Homo sapiens: one gene and its partner. The protein of the gene in region 2 purifies or fractionates together with the protein of the main gene of each other region. This does not show direct contact. Each region holds a gene or a part of one and is shown on either strand. Other genes may lie near its edges.

Evidence for each region.
Region 1: the proteins of ACSF3 (region 2) and ZNF467 purify together in Homo sapiens (co-immunoprecipitation; one large-scale study listed by IntAct). This does not show direct contact.

The regions. Positions count from the first base shown.
Region 1 is NC_000007.14:149,771,376-149,775,275, forward strand, and holds the start of ZNF467 (zinc finger protein 467), read right to left. Parts: upstream 2,214-3,900; 5' UTR 1,733-2,213; intron 1,713-1,732; exon of another isoform or gene 1,648-1,712; intron 1,387-1,647; exon of another isoform or gene 1,329-1,386; intron 122-1,328; exon of another isoform or gene 91-121; coding exon of another isoform or gene 10-90; exon of another isoform or gene 1-9. UniProt on the Homo sapiens protein: Transcription factor that promotes adipocyte differentiation and suppresses osteoblast differentiation in the bone marrow. Enhances the osteoclast-supporting ability of stromal cells.
Region 2 is NC_000016.10:89,152,553-89,156,452, forward strand, and holds the end of ACSF3 (malonate--CoA ligase ACSF3, mitochondrial isoform 1 precursor), read left to right. Parts: intron 1-1,537; coding exon 1,538-1,655; 3' UTR 1,656-3,681; downstream 3,682-3,900. UniProt on the Homo sapiens protein: Catalyzes the initial reaction in intramitochondrial fatty acid synthesis, by activating malonate and methylmalonate, but not acetate, into their respective CoA thioester. May have some preference toward very-long-chain substrates.

The DNA of each region.
Region 1 (3,900 bases), on a different chromosome or scaffold from region 2:
CGTCCTTGCCTGGGAAAGTGCAGGCAAGATTCGATTCTCTGGGGAGAGGCTTGAGGGTGGGAGCCCAGGGTGGGGAGTGGGAAACTTCATCTCCCAGGTCCTCCAGCTGTCACTGCCCGAGCTGGTGAAATAGGAGCCAGCCCAGGGGCGGGAGTGAGTGTCACTTTAGGGGTACTGCTTGGGGAGGTCCTCGAGAGGATCCTCTTGTAGCTAGAAAATGATCGCCTCTTCCTAAACCCCTACCACAAAACCACCTCTCACCCGTGCCGGGCTGCCCAAGGCCCGGACACCGCCCCTGCTGCCCCTTCCCTGCTCCGCCTTCCGCGGCTCCCCCGCCCCTCCCCCAGCAGACTCCCCTCCCCCATCTCCCCGGCAGCCTTCCCTCTGCCCCGCCCCTCCCGCTCCCTCTGCCTTCCGCCCTCTCTCCCCTGCGAATCGGGCCGGCGCCTCGGCTCCGCCCCCGGCCCCGCCCCTCAGGCTCCGCCCGCCCGAGCCCGGCAGGGCCAACCCCTCGAGGCCCCGTCCGGGTCGGCCCTCCGCTGCCACCGCCTCCCCTGACCCTACGCTCCGGGCCGCCTCGGCGGCAGCGCTCCCCTCCCCCTCTCAGACTCCAGGCTGCCTTTCCCTACCCTCCCGGTTCTCCCCCGCTCCATCTCCCTCCCCGGCTGCACACCCTCTCCCTTCCTTTCCCCCTCCTCTTTTCCTTCCTCGCCAACCCCCGCCCTCCTCCTCTCAGCTCTTTTCCCCAACCCAGTTCTCCTCTCCCCTCCCTCCTCTCCTCCCCCACCCCGGTTTCCCTTCCTTCTCCTTTCCTCGCCTCACCTCGGTTCCCTTCCCCTCCCCCTTTCCAGCCCTCCCCCACGTCTCCCCACCGCCCTCCCCCTCCCCCCTCCCTTCTGCAGCTCTCCTTCCCCTCCGAGGCCCCCGCCTCCCTTCCCCCTCTGTCTCCCCAGCAGGCTCCAGCTTCGCTTCCCTCCCCGTCCCCAGTCCCCAGAACCGCTCTTCCCCTCCCCCCTCCCAGGCTGCTTCCCAGCTCCCGGGTCCTCCGGCCCCCAAGCCTGGGGGTCTAGGGCTGACCCGCTCTCTCGGGACCTTCCCGCGGGCCCTGCCCTCCCCACTCCGTCTCCCCTCCGAACACCCCTCCGCGCCTCTCTTCTCCGCCGCGGCGCCCCCTCCCTATTTCTGCTCCCCTCGGACTTCTCACCCCTCCCAAGTTTTCCTCCCGACGGGACCCTCAGCTCCACCTCCCTGCCCCGCCGCCCTCCCAAGCAGCTCCGATCGCCGACTTCATTCCAGGTCCCGGCCCCCTCCCCAGCTCCGGGGCTCACCTGTCAGCGCCCTCCTCTCCCGCCCCTACCGAGTGGCCCGGTCCCCAGCGCCCGCTTCTTCCTCCCCTTCCCCCTCGGCCCCCTCCCACACTCCCTCTCTCCTCCCCTCGGGGCCCGTCGTCCCCCTTCCCACCTGCCTCCCGCCCGACCCCCTCCCAGCCCCCGCCCTTCCCTCCAGCCCCCCCGGTCTCCTCTACCCCCACAGCCCTCACCCTGCCCGCGCCGGCCTTGCCCTCCCTTCCCCCCAGCCCCCGACCTCCCCGGACCCGCGCCCCTCCCCCACGCCCGCCGTCCGCGCCCCTACCCCCGGGGCTGTCACCTGCGCGGAGCCGGCCGTGACCCAACCGCGGCGCTGAGGGAGACGCGGGCGGGGCCGCCTGCAGAGGAGCCTCCCCGGCCCTTACCTGGCTGGCCGGCCGCTCCGCCCGCGCCGCGGGGACCCAGGCGCCCGGGCCTCCTGCCCCGCCGGCTCTGCTCACAATGGCGCTCGCCGCCTGCAGCTCGGGTGCTGACGGCCTGAAAGACTGACAGACTGACAGCCCCGAAACTTCGCGGGGAGGAGAGGGATAGACGCGCGGGGAGTCGAAGCCGGGAAACGGCGCCTGCAAGGGAGGAGGGACCGAGGGAGCGGGCGGAGAGCCCCGGCGCACCGGGCTGGGGGAGGCAGGGGCAGGGGGTTTCAGGAGTGGGGTCCCAGGAGGGAGCACCGTGGGCTTAGGTGGGCAGGTGATGGTCCTAAGGCTCCGAGCCTGGAGTAGGTGTGGAAGTGGGAGCTCAGGACGGGGGAGGGGAGGGGAGGGGAGGGGAGGGTGATGGGAGAGGGGGTGGAGGAGGGCGAGGAGGCTGGGGAGGACAGGCACTCGGGCTGCGGGGAAGGGTGCCAAGGGAGGGTGCTCGCGGCCGCGGAGGGAGGAGCCGGGGAAAGGTGGAGCGCGAACGGGTGGGGGGGTGGCGGGGAGGAGTTGGGGGAACGAGGAGGGGCCGTGTCGGGGGGGAGCCAGCGAGTCGTGCGCTGCCGTCTCTAAGTCGCCGGTGCCAGCCGGGTGTGCAGCGCCGCGCTCCCGCGGGAGGACGGCCCGGGGGGTCGGTCTGGGAAACTCCGGCCCCGCCCCCATTCTCCACCCGGATTCCACCCCGATCCACCCAGACCCGCAGCCCCTCGCCTGGAGTCCCGAGGACCCGATTCGAAACCAGCCGCGGGAGCCGTGGGGGCAGGCGGGAGAGAGGGCTGGGCCCCTGTGCTTGCGAGAACGGGTCCTTCGAAGTAGAAACTGGGGAGAGGACTTTAAGCCAGGTCCCCTGGGAGAAGGCCGGGCCAGGTCGGGAGCTCCAGGGGGCAAGGCTGGGACGGGGCTGGGCGGAGATTCTGAGGGCGGGGTCCGGGGGAGGGTCTGGGAGGGGGCTGCAGAGAGGGGAGGGCTCTATGGGCGGGAGACGATTGCTGGGGGGCCTGCTGGCCCGGACACCACCTGGAGTTAGATGTGGAGGGCAGCCCTCAGCCCTCAGCCCTCAGCCCCAGCTCCTCAGGGGACTCCACTCGCCCTCCCTGCCCAGGTTACGAGGTTTCTCCTTGGCCTTGTTCCCGCTGCGCCCACTCCTGAAAGCTCCGGAGATGCTGAAGTCTGGACTGTTAGTTCCCGGTCTCCTCTCCATGAACTTTCTCCAAACCCCTGGGTTCCAGCTTCCTCCCTTCTGCCCCTTTACGGGAAAGGGTGACTGCAACTCGGGTCTCTTCCCAATCCCAGTGCTGCCTGATCAGCCCCGGTTTGAATCCAGAGCTGAGTGAGGCTGGGAAGGGGAGGGTGTGAATGGCCCTTGAGCTCCTGCTACCACAGCCCACCACAAGGATGAGTGCCTGGAAGAGCGCCCATCACTCGGGCTCAGCTGTGAAGGCTCCTCTGCCTCCAGGATGAAGGGAGCACCTGGAGTAGCATGTGTCACTGTGCGTGCTGGGGTGTGGCCGAGCACCTGTGCCGGTGTTGTGAGACTTACAGTGAGAGTGTGCATGTGTGTAAAACAGGAAAGGGGGGTGTCTGGGTGTGCGTGTGGCTCTTTCTGAGGACTCCAGAGCAGGAGTTGATCCCAGTCATCCGTGACCCCCTGAGAGACTCACTCTGGGCCCTTTTTTGGCCCTGGGACCAATGGTGAACCCAGGAGAAGGAGAGCCCGGCCCAGCTCTGGTTAACAGCAGCCCCCTTCCTCCCCTAGGTGGAATGACTCTACAGGATACTCGGAGGGATATCAGGTTTAGGAGACCGAGGGGTGTGGAGTCGGAGCCAGGCTGCATTCCAGCCCGGGTGTCCGGGTGTGCTCAGAGCTCTGCTGGGACCAGGGTGGACCCCGGATTCCCCTGTGGAGCCTGTCACTGCCCCTCCCAGCCGGATTCTCGGATTATTTCATCCGGCTTAGCTCTGCCCCAGGGCTGGGGGAGCTGGCTCCCCCGCCCACTCCTTCCAGAGGGTCCTCTCATTCCTCAGCATAGGCTCCCCAGTTCTAGACCCCAGAGACTCTAGGAGACCCTCGAAGAAGGAGACAGGGTGGGCCCAACCAGCCACACATAATCATCCCCAGC
Region 2 (3,900 bases):
AGCCGAGACTGCACCACTGCAATCCAGCCTGGGCGACAGGGCAAGCCTCTGTCTCAAAAGAAAAAAAAATCTACACATCCCTCACCACACTGTACATAGGACAGCTGGGTGTAAATTACATCTCCATTTAAATGCCTGTCATAGTTTTATACAACTATAAAATATATACGTGCCAAAATAAATTTGATAGGAACATTGGAACCAGGTAAGGTGACGCATACCTGTAGCACTTCGGGAGGATCCTTTGAGCCCAGGAAGTCGAGGCTTCAGTGAGCCATGACTGCACCACTGCACTCTGGCCCAGGCAACAGTGAGATCCTGTCCTAGAAAGAAAAGAGAAAAAAAGAAAAATGCGATTTGGAAATGTGGAGGTCGAGGTTGACAGCGACACCGAGGTCGAAGCCAGTTGCCCCTGGAGAGCGAGAGACTGGGCTGGGCCGACTCCCACCTCTGTCGCGAGAGGCCTACGGGCAGGGGCAGGTGGGCAGGGGGACTGTGCTGGGTCTCTGGCCGCGTCTGGACGGCAGGCGACACTTTCTCCACAAAAAGCGTCAAGAAACCACGACACTTGGTTTCTGGACTTTTCCGCGGAACAGTAACCAGAACAATCGCCATGAAGGTTCGTTTCTGTCATGGCTCAGTGCAGCCTGGACGCCCTGGACCAGCCCCTCCTGCGCCTGGGCCACGGCCGCTGCCTTCAGGGCATCACTGGTGGGCGGCACAACCATCCTCCCTTTGGGGGGTTAATTTCATTTCTTTCCTCCCTTCTTTAATGGTGAATGGAGGAGCACCGAGCACCACTGCAGTCTCAGTTTCAGATCCCAGCGCCTCGTCCCTGCCCACTGCCCTCGGCCCCGCCCGCCTGCATTGGCAGTGCCCTGGCCCCACCCACCCGTGTCAGCACCGCCCACCGCCCTGGCACCACCCACCGAGTTCTCGCCCATGAGGAAGGGGGACCCTGAGTGGAGGTTTCAAACCTTAGGGGCCGTCCCTGCCGTGCAGGGCTCTGTGAGGCCTCTTGCCACATAGGCTTGTGTCTGCAGGACTGTGCGGCATTTACTCCCATCTCAAATACCCCATACAGGGCAGACTGCCCCTGCCCCACCTGCCCACCCACTCCCCAGCCTCTTCCGCACGCCTCCTCTGGAAGGGGAACGGGCCACAGAGTGAAATGGGGCCTTCCAGCTCCAGTGCGGGGACTTGGAAGGCCTGGCCCGGTGTGGGGGCCCCTCTGCCCTGCAGGCCACTCTGTGCAGGCCTATCCTCAGGTGTGCCCTCGCCCAAGGCCTGCACGCACCATGGCTTCTGTGGTACCAGTGATAACACCATGCCGGGCACCTCCTGCAGTCACCACCCCTGGGCTGCTAGGGCAGAGACAGCTGCGGTGGCCCGGTGCACCTGCCTGGCCTCAGGATGGCCGAGGCGCCTGGCAAGGCTGCAGGGTCCCAGGGGCACCTGTCCGTACTGCTGGGCGCCTGAGTTCCTCCTGCTGGGCACTGTCAGGGCAGTGCGCCTCAGGCTGTGCTTGTCTCTGCAGAAATGTCCTGGCCCCGTACGCGGTGCCCTCGGAGCTGGTGCTGGTGGAGGAGATCCCGCGGAACCAGATGGGCAAGATTGACAAGAAGGCGCTCATCAGGCACTTCCACCCCTCATGACCCGGCAGACTGGGACTGCGGGTCTGGTGGGGAGCAGCAGACGTCCCCTTCACACCGAGAACCACGGGGGCCCGTCCAAGACCTGGCCTCCCTTAAACCTGAACCCCCCAAATCAGGTCACGTAGAATCAAGAACTGTTTGGGATGAAATCACCATGTGGGGTCCCCAGCCTCGGGCCAGTTGTTGCAGCTCAAGGAGACCGTCCCTGGTGTCACCTCTGCCTGGTCACCGCCGACCTCATCTGTGCAGCGCGGTGCAGCCAGCCCCTGGCCCCACGTGCTGAGGCACCTCCCGCCCCACAGTGCCCTGCAGTTGCCAGGCTCTCCAGGGCAGGTCCCAGAGGTTTCCCACAAAAAACAAAGACTCCACTGGAGGAAACAAGCCCCTGTCCCACGCCGTCTGCACGTGCCTGTGCCTCACCCAGAGCCAGTGTCTCCCGGCCCACATAGGAGGTCTGGGCAGCCACCCAGGGGGCCCTCCTGGGAGGAGCTGAGGGTTCACAAGCCTCCCAGAACCAGCCCTGTCCCATGGGTTCCGTGCATTTCCTGGTGCTGCTCTTGGAGGAGAGCAGCTCCCACTGTGGGGACACCTGCCACCCTGCACACTACTGTGTGTCCATCAGCATGTGTCACAGAAAGTGCGTGGACGGATGGCCCCGGAGCTGCTCTGCCGTGACCCTGCCTCACCCCCCAGCGCAGGGACTTTCCAGGTCATCTCCACACCAGCCCCTCAGCCGGTGAACCCTCTCTCCCATCACCGTCTCCACCCAGACCCCCACCTGCCCCATGGCCCCCATTTCATGTCTGTGGCTCACCAGCTTTTCCCCAGACCCAGCTCCGGAGCCCACAGGCGTGGCCGATGCAGAAACCTCAGGAAGGTGTGTTGTGAATGTTGGGTGCACCCACGTTGCATTTACTTAGCGGGGCCAATTCAGATGCACAGGGGCCACATGCAGAATCCAGAAGTTTCTGGACAATTTTCAGAAGAATAGGCTGCCTCCTCCCCACAGCCTGGGGGAAGTAACAGTCATCGCCCAGCAGTGTCTGGCCTGAACTTACCCAGAACATTCTGCCCCCGGAATGCACGTCTGAAAGAGTGGCCAGAAACGAGTGTGCCGGGCAGGAGGCCAGCCCCATCTCAGGCTCACGTGCCTCTGACAGGAGACCAGCCCCATCTCAGGCTCACATGCCTCGCGGACAGTTGGACGTGGCCTGGGGCCCCTGCTCACTTGAGCATGTCGCCCACCAAGCTTGTCTGAGGCCACAGAGCAGCGTCCCAGCCCTGTTTTCCAGGACTGGTGGGTGCCCCAGTCCACGGCCCTGCCCCACCCGAACTCCTGCCTCACGGTGTGGCCTTGTGCATCCCCATGGCCTGACCCCGGGAACAGTCAGAGGAAGGGGTCCCGCCCTCCCGCCAGAGGCCTGGACCCAAGGGAACGGCAGTCAGAGACTACAGTCCAGACGTTTGTGTCTAGGCCTTGCTGGTAGCTAAGGAAATGCCTTCTGTTGGGAAAAGGTCAAATTTAACATAGCAAAATTTTTACTTAATTCCACTAATTTTACATTTGCATCTCTCTCCTTTAATCCTGAAACTTTTGATTCCTAAAAAGCTTACATAATCATTTGCTTTATCCGATAGTATACATCAGTATATCATGCTTTCGAAATAATGAGTGTAACTTTCTGCTGACAATACTACAAACTACAGAAAGCCTGGAGCTCATTGACCAGAAACTGCAGAGAGCCTGGAGCTCGTTGACCACAAACTACAGAAAGCCTGGAGCTCGTTGACCAGCCGGTTGACCAGAATACGGTGCTCCAAGGACATGCGGTTGAATGCCGTGTTCTAAAGTCACGAGTGACTCTCCAGCTGGTCCCTGTGCCAGGCTGGTCGGCCTTCGTGCACACAGTCCGCCAGTGCCCAGCCAGGCCCCTGGTTCCCCTCTGCTCCACCAGCCGAGAACAAGCCCGTCCTGGAGGGAACTCATCCTCTCCTCCCTCCCCATTAAAGCCCAGTTTATTCCCCATCTTGGCCTCTGGTGCTGACCTGGCCTCTGGAGACACAGGCCGGGGGGTGCTGTTTGCGAACTCACCGTGACTGAGCTCCATGAGGATACCACAGTCCCACGTGGCTGGCAGCGCCCACCCCACACACCCTGCCCCTTGCTGGGCGGCCCCATGCCACAAAAGTTAGACCCAGGAGCAGGTGCCCTGGGAGCAGGCTGCCACCAGCTGGGTCAGAAGCC